2 separate regions of the Homo sapiens genome follow, and region 2 is linked to region 1. Evidence: fine-mapped expression QTL. A gene starts in region 1. The other region holds a variant in brackets. All regions are shown on one strand. Distances are between the middles of the regions.

Region 1 (4,000 bases):
ATCCCACACCCCCAGATCTTGGCAGGAGCCTTTTCAGGACTAAGATAACGTGTGGCAGGGGAGGAAGAGGGGGCCTTTCCTCACCTGGAGAAGCCTTTCCCACAGCTCTGGCAGATGTAAGGCTTGCCCACGGACCCATCATGGGACCGCACATGGTAGGACATGCGGTCTTTTCTCTTGAACCGCAACCCACACACAGGGCAGGAGTAGGGCTTCTCCCCAGAGTGGGACAGCTTGTGCCGGTTAAGATGATACACATCACGGAAGATCTTGCCGCAGATCTCACAAGCCACCTGCTTCCTGGTCCGGCTCCTCTTTCGGGGGCCGTCGGGGTCTTCAGAGATGGGTAGCCCATTCTCACCCAGCCTCGGAGGAGGAAGGTCGATGTAGCCCAGCTGGAGGCTGGTGACACCGTGCTGGGCCTCGTGCTGCCGGAGCCGGTTGGCATCAGTGAACACCTTACCACATAGACCGCATGGAAGGATGCCTGCCTCCCTCAGGCCCCCTGGGGACCCAAACATTGAGTCCAGCAGGTTGGCCTTCCTTGGGCGGCCCCGGCCTCGCTTGCCAGTCAGGGGAGGGGCACTGGATGCCACACTGGGGAATGGGGAAGTCAGCAGTTGGGGGGATAGGGGTCCAGCCACCATGGGCAAGCGGTCCACCCCAGGTAACACAGGCAAAGAGGCTTGGCCTGCAATGGCTGCACCAGCCGCCCGAGCTGCCTCCTCCTCTGGCTGCATGCTGCCGGCGATGCCATTGCTGTTGGCTGCCAAGGCTGCCCCGTTGGTCATGTCCAAAGGGAAGCCCAAGTCCGAGGTCCCAGGGGGGCGAAAGAGCATTATATCGGCGCGGGCAGGGGGTACCAGGATCTGTACGTTGGACTGTTTGATGACTTCCTGGCAGATCTCGATAACCGACCTCATCAGCAGGAACTTGGCGGCCGTCATGAGTTCGGGAAAGCTCTCCAAGCGCACCACGATGCGGGAAGTGTAGGCGAAGTCCAGAATGTCCCCAAATACCTTGGAGCTGATAGTGTGCATCTCCAGCTCCCGGCTGCCCCCGGCCCCGCCGCCTGGTGCTGCCGTCGCGCCCCCTACATCAGCCGGACCCCCGTCCGCAGCTCCGCCGTCGCCCAACTGGGCGCTGAACACCGACTCAAAGTACTCGCTGCAGGCGGCCAGCACGGCGCGGTGCGCTGGGAAGCTCTCGTCGCCTACCCGCAAGAGCACGTCGCAGAAGCGCCCGCCGTTTTTGCGCTGCTGGTTCAGGTTGTGCAGCATCTCCGTGCTGTGTCTGCTCACCTGGTATGTGTAGCAGCCAGACGGGCCGCACGAAGCGTCGTTCACCCGCTCCATGGCCGCCGCCCCCTCCCACTAGCCCGGCCGCTGCACCTGCCCGCCCCCTCCCTTCCCCTCAGCAGCGAGAAGCGGGGCGCAGCAGACGTGTCCACACTCCCCACACGTGCCGGCCCGAGGCTCTGTAGTCTCGCAGGTGCGCCGAGTGTACACGCCCCCAGCCCGGATCAGACTGTCTAGACTGCGGGGTGCACCACCCCCCACATAGCCAACCCCCGCCCTCGCTGGACTGCGCGCCACTCTCTCCTCTCCGCCCGCCCGCCTCCCCTTCCCGGTCTACCTTCCGGGGGGGTGCGCGAGCGAAGAGGTGCGCCCCTCCTGCAAACGCGCCTGCCACCTCCCCTCCCGCCCGCCAGGCGGCGCCGGCGCGCAGCCAAGAAGGGCACGCGCACGCGGGGAGGAGAAGGAGGGGTCCGCCGCGCAGGCGCGCGCGCGCGCCGCGGCTTTTCCCGGGCCCGCTGGGGGCGCGCGCTGCGTCCCCTGCAAAGCGCGAGCCGGGGCGGGGGCGCCGGAGCGGAGGAAACAAAAGGCGAAGGCGAAGGCGGCGGCGGCGGGGCGCGCACGGGGGCGGTGGCGCGGGCCGGGTCCCGGAGCCTGGAGGGCGGTGGCGGCGGCGGCGGCGGCTGGAGCGGGCGGGCGGCGGCGGCGGCAGAGTAGGCCCTTCCTCAGGCCGGGAGAAGGCGGCGGCGGAGCGGCGGCTGTGCGGCCCCGGGCTCCGTGTGTTCGGAGCGGAGGAAAGATGGCAGCGGCTGCACTTCCTCTTGCACTTTCACCCCTGGGGGGAGGAGAAGGAGGGGGCGATACCAACAACACCCCCCCTCTCGCTTGCAGAAAAAAAAGAAACGGCGAGCTCAGAGTGGGGGCCCCGGCGTCCCCGGCCTTGCACGTGCGCGCCCGGATGCCTAGCCCGGGCCGCCTGGCGCTGCAAACTTTACACTTTCTTTGTGCCGAGCGCCCCCCCCTCACCAAGACGAGGATGCACGTCCCCCCTTCCCTATTTATACACCCCCCCCCCGCAGTCCGCTCCCCCCGCTTCCTGCCCCCCCTCCCCATTCCCCAGATCCGCCAATGCTAGAGCAGCCTGAGCCCCCGTCCGGCCCCCGCCTCCCCACCCCGCCCGCGGGGCCGGGGGCTGCAGTCTCAGCCCCCCCGGACCAATGCAAACGAAGCGCCGAGCCAGCAAACCAGCTCCCACTGCCCCTCCCCTGCCCGCTGAGAGTGGCGGCTAGCAGGGTGGGGGGGCAGGAACTGAGGGGTGCGGATCCGGGCCCCCCAGCCTGCGAAGCGCACTCGCAGGTCGAGCGGGCGTCGTCCACCCTTCGGAGCCCCGCTTTCATGCGTGAAATTCCCAGAAGTCGCCTGCGACCGCCTCCCTGCTTCAAACACCAGAGAGGGCCCGGGGTCCTGGCCGGAGACAGGCCGAACCTCCGGAGCTGCTTCTGCACCCGGTACATTGATCGATCTGATGGGCTGCGCGCCCGGAAGAGCTGGAGAGATGAAGCCAGCGTCCAGCTTCTCCCCCAAACCACAGCACGCCGAGCTTTGTCCCCGGGGAGCGTGAAGTCACCAGCTCCGGGAGGCGACAATATGAGGGCGATGGACGGGGCAGGGACCCCCGGAAGCCCCAGCAATCCTCAGGGAAGTGGGGGTGCCGGAGGAGTCGGGGACACCCTCAGGCCTCTCCAAGCCCGGAGCATCCCCAGCGCCCGCAGCCCTGTGAGACGCCGGGTGCTCTGGTAATGGGCCCTGCCGCCAGGCCTCGGCGCTTTGTCCCCGGCCCGCCCGGGGATGCTACCACGCTAGAGTTGTACACCAAGGTTTGTCTTCCCAGGAAGCGCTGGCGGCTGCCTTTGGGCCGCCTGGCGCGGAGCCCCAGGCTGCAGGCGCCGCGTGTGCGGGCGGGAAGTTCCCACAGTTGCAAAGAGGCAGCGAAGTATGTGTTCCAAACTTTCCACGGTTCCAAACTGAGCGCTTCCATTAAGAGAAGCGGTGTGCGGGGGAAAAGCATTCTGGGTATTAGCATGCAAATGAACGGGCCCGGCTTCCAACTCCGCTCGGGATTCCCACCGCTGCGCGCCGAGCTCGCGCCCAGCCACGCGCGCCCTGAGGCTTCCGGGCGTTGCCCTGGCGGATGATCCGAGTTCAAAATCGAGACCTCTGCCTTCTGGTTTCGTGTCCTGGTGCTTAGTCACTTGGCCTCCCTGAGATTCAGTTAAACTGTTTCTTAACCTGTGCACAGGGACAGCAGCACCTGTCCTGCACACCTCCGCTCTAGGGCATAGTACATGCCAAACTCCTGTTGGAGAGAATGAATTAGAGGCATGAAGAAAGTTCCCTGGACACGAAGCCAGGAGATCTGTGTTCTAAGCCCAGACTCACTGTCACCTTAGGCTAGTGCCTCCCTCTCTGAGCCACAGCTTTCTTGGGCGGATTTTGGGAACTGGCACGTTTTATTTTTGAGAGAGCTGCTGGGAACATCCACAGAGAAAGAGAAAGGGGCCGGGCGCGGTGGCTCACGCCTGTTATCCCAGCACTTTGGGAGGCTGAGGCGGGCGGATCACCTGAGGTCGGGAGTTCGAGACCAGTCTGACCAACACGGAGAAACCCCATCTCTACTAAAAATACAAAACTAGGCCGGGCGCAGT
Region 2 (4,515 bases), 350 kb after region 1:
AATACAAAATTACGGTGTCTCATGCCTGTAATTCCAGCACTTTGGGAGGCTGAGGTGGGCGGATCATGAGGTCAGGAGATCGAGACCATCCTGGCTAACATGGTGAAACCATGTCTCTACTAAAAATACAAAAAACAAAATTAGCCGGGTGTGGTGGCGGGCGCCTGTAGTCCCAGCTATTCGGGAGGCTGAGGCAGGAGAATGGCGTGAACCCGGGAGGCAGAGCTTGCAGTGAGCTGAGATCGGGCCACTGCACTCCAGCCTGGGTGACAGAGCAAGACTCCGTCTCAACAAAAACAAAAACAAAAACAGAAAAAAAAAAAGAAAAAGAATACAAAATTAGGCCAGGTGCGGTGGCTCACGCCTATAATCCCAGCACTTTGAGGCCGAGATGGGCGGATCATGAGGTCAAGAGATTAAAACCATCCTGGCCAAAATGGTGAAACCCTGTCTCTACTAAAAATACAAAAATTAGCTGGGTGTGGCGGCACACTCCTGTAGTCCCTGCTACTCGGGAGGCTGAGGCAGGAGAATCCCTTGAACCCAGGAGGCTGAAGTTGCAGTGAACCCAGATCGCGGCACTGCACTCCAGCCTGGGTGACAGAGCCAGACTCCATCAAAACAAAACAAAACAAAAAAACCTACAGTTATTTGTCAAGCAAATAATATACCCCCAAAAAAAGAACAGCTCTTTGTGAAGCGAATAATGTATCAAAATTTTACTGTTTACTATATGCCAATGATGAAATTATTGCTTTTCAGCTCAAAATCTGCCCTGCAGTACCTGCTCTGTGATAACGGAATCCTAGGCCCTTTAAGCATTTCTCTTTTGCAGTGAGTATGATGCTAAACTTTGTCACAAGGTGTTGGAGGAACAATGCAGGTGGAAGGGAGCTTCTCTTTCCGGTTTGGTGAGCTTTTTTTCTTGCTCCTGCACCATGGGCCATCAGTGATTAATATATGTTGGGGTGTCTTGGGGCTTCTCTGCCCTAGTGGTGCGGCCAGGACATGTAGTCCCTCAGTGACTTTGCAGCCTTAGCTTGGCGACCACTTTGCTGCAGGCTTCCCAACACGCATAGGGCACTCCAGGCCTTATGCCCTCAGTGGTAACCTGACTTCCTGATGGTCATTTCCTGTCACTCTCCTGAAGCAAAAACCACATGCTCCAGGCCTTGCATCACAGCAGTGCCCTACCTCCGTCTGCAGCAGCCTTATCTTGTCTATGCTTGAGAAGGTGGTTGTTATTTCCTGCTTGCCCAGCTCTGGCCTCTGCAACCCACCCATCCAATGGGCTGCAACCTCACCTTCTCCAACCAAGTCTCAACTCCAACCTTGAGGGAGGTGGTGTCCCTTCCAAGTTTGCCCTTCCTAGGGTACTCTCCCTTAACCCGAGTGTACCCTTCAGGATTCTCTTTACATTTAAGGTTACTCCCTGTCATAGTTTAATGTTTTATAATAAACTTCCCCTGTCTAAAATACTGTGTGATTTCTGTCTCCTGATTGGACTTGAACCAATACGTAATACTAAGGTAAAAATCCTAAGAGCTAAATTAGGTTGCTACTAAATATGTTAGACCAGTGGTCTTTAGTGTACCTAAAAACTTTCCACAGAGTACACGAGAACCCGGCTGTAGGAGAATCAACCACTCAATCTTTAATTTCTATTTTTTCTTTATTATTATAATTTTTTTTTTTTTTAGATGGGGTCTTGCTCTATTGCCCAGGCTGGAGAGCAGTGGTGCGATCTCGGCTCACTGCAACCACCGCCTTTTGGGTTCAAGCGATTCTCCGGCCTCAGCCTCCCCAGTAGCTGGGATTACAGGTGTACGCCACCACACCCAGCTAATTTTGTATTTTTAATAGAGATGGGGTTTCACCATGTTAGCCATGCTGGTCTCGAACTTCTGACCTCACAATCCACCCACCTCAGCCTCCCAAAGTGCTGGGATTACAGGCATGAGCCAACGCGCCTCGCCTTATTATTAATTTTTGTAGAAATGTGGTCTCACCATGTTGCCCGGGCTACTCTTAACCTCCTGGGCTCAAGTGATCCTCCCACCTTGGCCTCCCAAAGTGT[C/T]GGGATTATAGGTGTGAACTACCATACCCAGCTCAATCTCTAATTTCTAAAAGTGATACATCTAAGAAGTGTCCTGAATTGCTCTTGCAGGTCTCTCTGTTCCCACAAATTCTCTCAGAACAGCTCCTACCCATCCTGAATTCTTCTTTGATACATCAATCAAAACACTCATTTTGCTAAGCCCTTTCCAGTGATTAATGAAATCACCATAAACTTGTCTTGGGCTTTTCTTTTCCTTTACTACACATTATTCAGTTAAGAGAGAAGAGTGCCTTTAGAGATTGGGTATTAGGGGCTGAGCACGGTGGCTCATGCCTGTAATCCCAGCACTTTGGGAGGCCAAGGCGGGCAGATCACATGAGGTCAGGAGTTTGAGACCAGCTTGGCCAACATGGTGAAACCCTGTCTCTACTAAAAATACAAAAATTAGCTGGGTGTGGTGGCGTGTGCCTGTGATACCAGCTACGCGGGGGGCTGAGGCAGGAGAATCGCCTGTACCTGGAAGGCAGAGGTTGCCATGAGCCGAGATCATGCCATTGCACTTCAGACTGGGCAACAAGGGTGAAACTCCTTCTCAAAAAACAAACAAACAAACAAACAAACAAACAAAAAATTAGCCAGGCATGGTGGCAGGTGCCTGTAATCCCAGCTACTCGGGAGGCTGAGCCACGAGAATCACTGGAACCCAGGAGGTGGAGGTTGCAGTGAGCCAAAACTGCACCACTGCACTCCAGCCTGGGTGGCACAGTGATACTCTGTCTCAAAAAAAAAAAAAAAAAAAAAGAAATTGGGTATTTGGGCAATTGGACAATTGATTTCAGGTATCTCATGGAAAGGAGTTGTCAGAGTGACTTTGCCTCGTTCACCTTGATTATCATCAAATAATGTCTACTTAAGAAAAAAACCTTACTTAGGAAAGAGAGCTTCAAACACTAAAAATAGCTTGTTCGTGTATTTAATTATATACAATATTTTTTCTAGCTATTCTCACTTCTCATTAACAATATGTCATCACTTAGAAAAGTTCCACTCAACATATACATGGGATCGGCACGATGGCTGACACCAGTAATTTGGGCACTTTGGGAGGTGGAGGTGGCCAGATCACTTGAGCCTGGGAGTTCAAGACCAGCCTGGGGAACATGGCAAAATCCCATCTCTACTAGAAATACAAAAATTAGCTGGGCATGGTAGCACATGCCTGTAGTCCCAGCTACTCATGAGGCTGAGATAGGAGGATCACCTGAGCCCAGGAAGTTGAAGTTGAAGCTGCAGTGAGCCATGATCATGCGTCTACACTCCAGCCTGAGCGAGACCTTGTCACAAAACAAACAAACTGTAACTATATATATATCAAGATGTTTACTGGGACTACCAAACACTTGAAGTGTACAAAACCCACAGAAAAAATTTAAGTAATTTCCTTTGGTTAAGGCATGAACTTTTATCAATTCATATAATGAAATATTTAATTCAAGTAGTCAGTCCCTTCTGATCTGATCCTATAAGATGTTGTAATTCTTTTTTTTTTTTGAGATGGAGTGGCTCAATCATGGCTCACTGCAACCTCCACCTCCCGGGTTCAAGCGATTCTCCTGCCTTAGCCTCATGAGTAGCTGGGATGACAGGTGCCTGCCACCATGCCTAGCTAATTTTTGTATTTTTAGTAGAGACAGGTTTTCACTATGTTGGCCAGGCTGGTCTTGAACTCCTGACCTCAGTTGATATACCCGCCTTGGCCTCCCAATGTGCTGTGATTACAGGCATGAGCTACCATGCCCGGCCAGATGTTATAACTTCTATCCCCATTAACAATACCAAAAAGTACGTGATAAACTGCCCTGCCAATTGGTTTGTCCAATATACTTTTCTCTTATATTAAATATGAAAGCAGGCTGGGCTTGGTGGCTCACTCCAGCCTGGGCAACAACTACATCTCAAAACTACATCTCAAAACAATGAGTTTTTTTTTTATGTAGAGCAAAACTACATCTCAAAAAAAAAAAAGAAAGCAATCATTGAGACTTATATAAATCAATAGATTTAGTTCTGATTTTTACAATAATTCTGAATCATTCTTAAAAGTCTAATACTAAAGTGGCTGGGCACGGTGGGTCACGCCTGTAATCCCAGCACTTTGGGAGGCCGAGGTGGGCGGATCACGGGGTCAGGAGATCAAGACCATCCTGGCTAACATGGTGAAACCCCATCTCTACTAAAAAAATACAAAAAATTAGCCGGGCGTACTGGCGGGCGCCTGTAGTCCCAGCTACTCGGGAGGCTGAGGGAGGAGAATGGCGTGAACCTGGGAGGCGGAGCTTGCAGTGAGCCGAGATCGTGCCACTGCACTCTAGCCTGGGCAACAGAGCGAGACTGTGTAAAAAAAAAAAAGTCTAATACCAGAGTTTAATTCATGTATGCATACACATTTAGTAAAG

Alleles and levels. Positions count from the first base shown, and alleles are read on the strand shown. Sizes are in standard deviations (SD) of each study's normalised expression.
As copies of C replace T in region 2, the expression in liver of the gene that starts at base 2,099 in region 1 goes down (moderate effect, 0.42 SD a copy in GTEx).

The links. PIP is the estimated chance that this variant, and not a neighbour inherited with it, causes the effect.
Region 2: its variant is the best candidate, but not a certain one, in a credible set for the expression of PATZ1 in liver (GTEx, PIP 0.59).

The regions. Positions count from the first base shown.
Region 1 is chr22:31,344,248-31,348,247 of GRCh38, forward strand. PATZ1 (POZ/BTB and AT hook containing zinc finger 1) reads right to left here and starts at 2,099. Exons shown (of 5, transcript NM_014323.3): 1 at 85-2,099. The coding sequence starts at 1,355. LINC01521 (long intergenic non-protein coding RNA 1521) reads left to right here and starts at 2,512. Exons shown (of 1, transcript NR_120386.1): 1 at 2,512-4,000. RefSeq lists an enhancer at 1-34 and silencers at 855-924, 1,475-1,894, 2,265-2,334, 2,385-2,604.
Region 2 is chr22:31,694,463-31,698,977 of GRCh38, forward strand. All of the region lies in intron 7 of PRR14L (proline rich 14 like), which reads right to left. Among named protein-coding and RNA genes, the nearest start is that of PISD, 35 kb to the left of the region's middle. RefSeq lists an enhancer at 575-1,076. The variant C/T (reference allele first, on the strand shown) is at 2,078.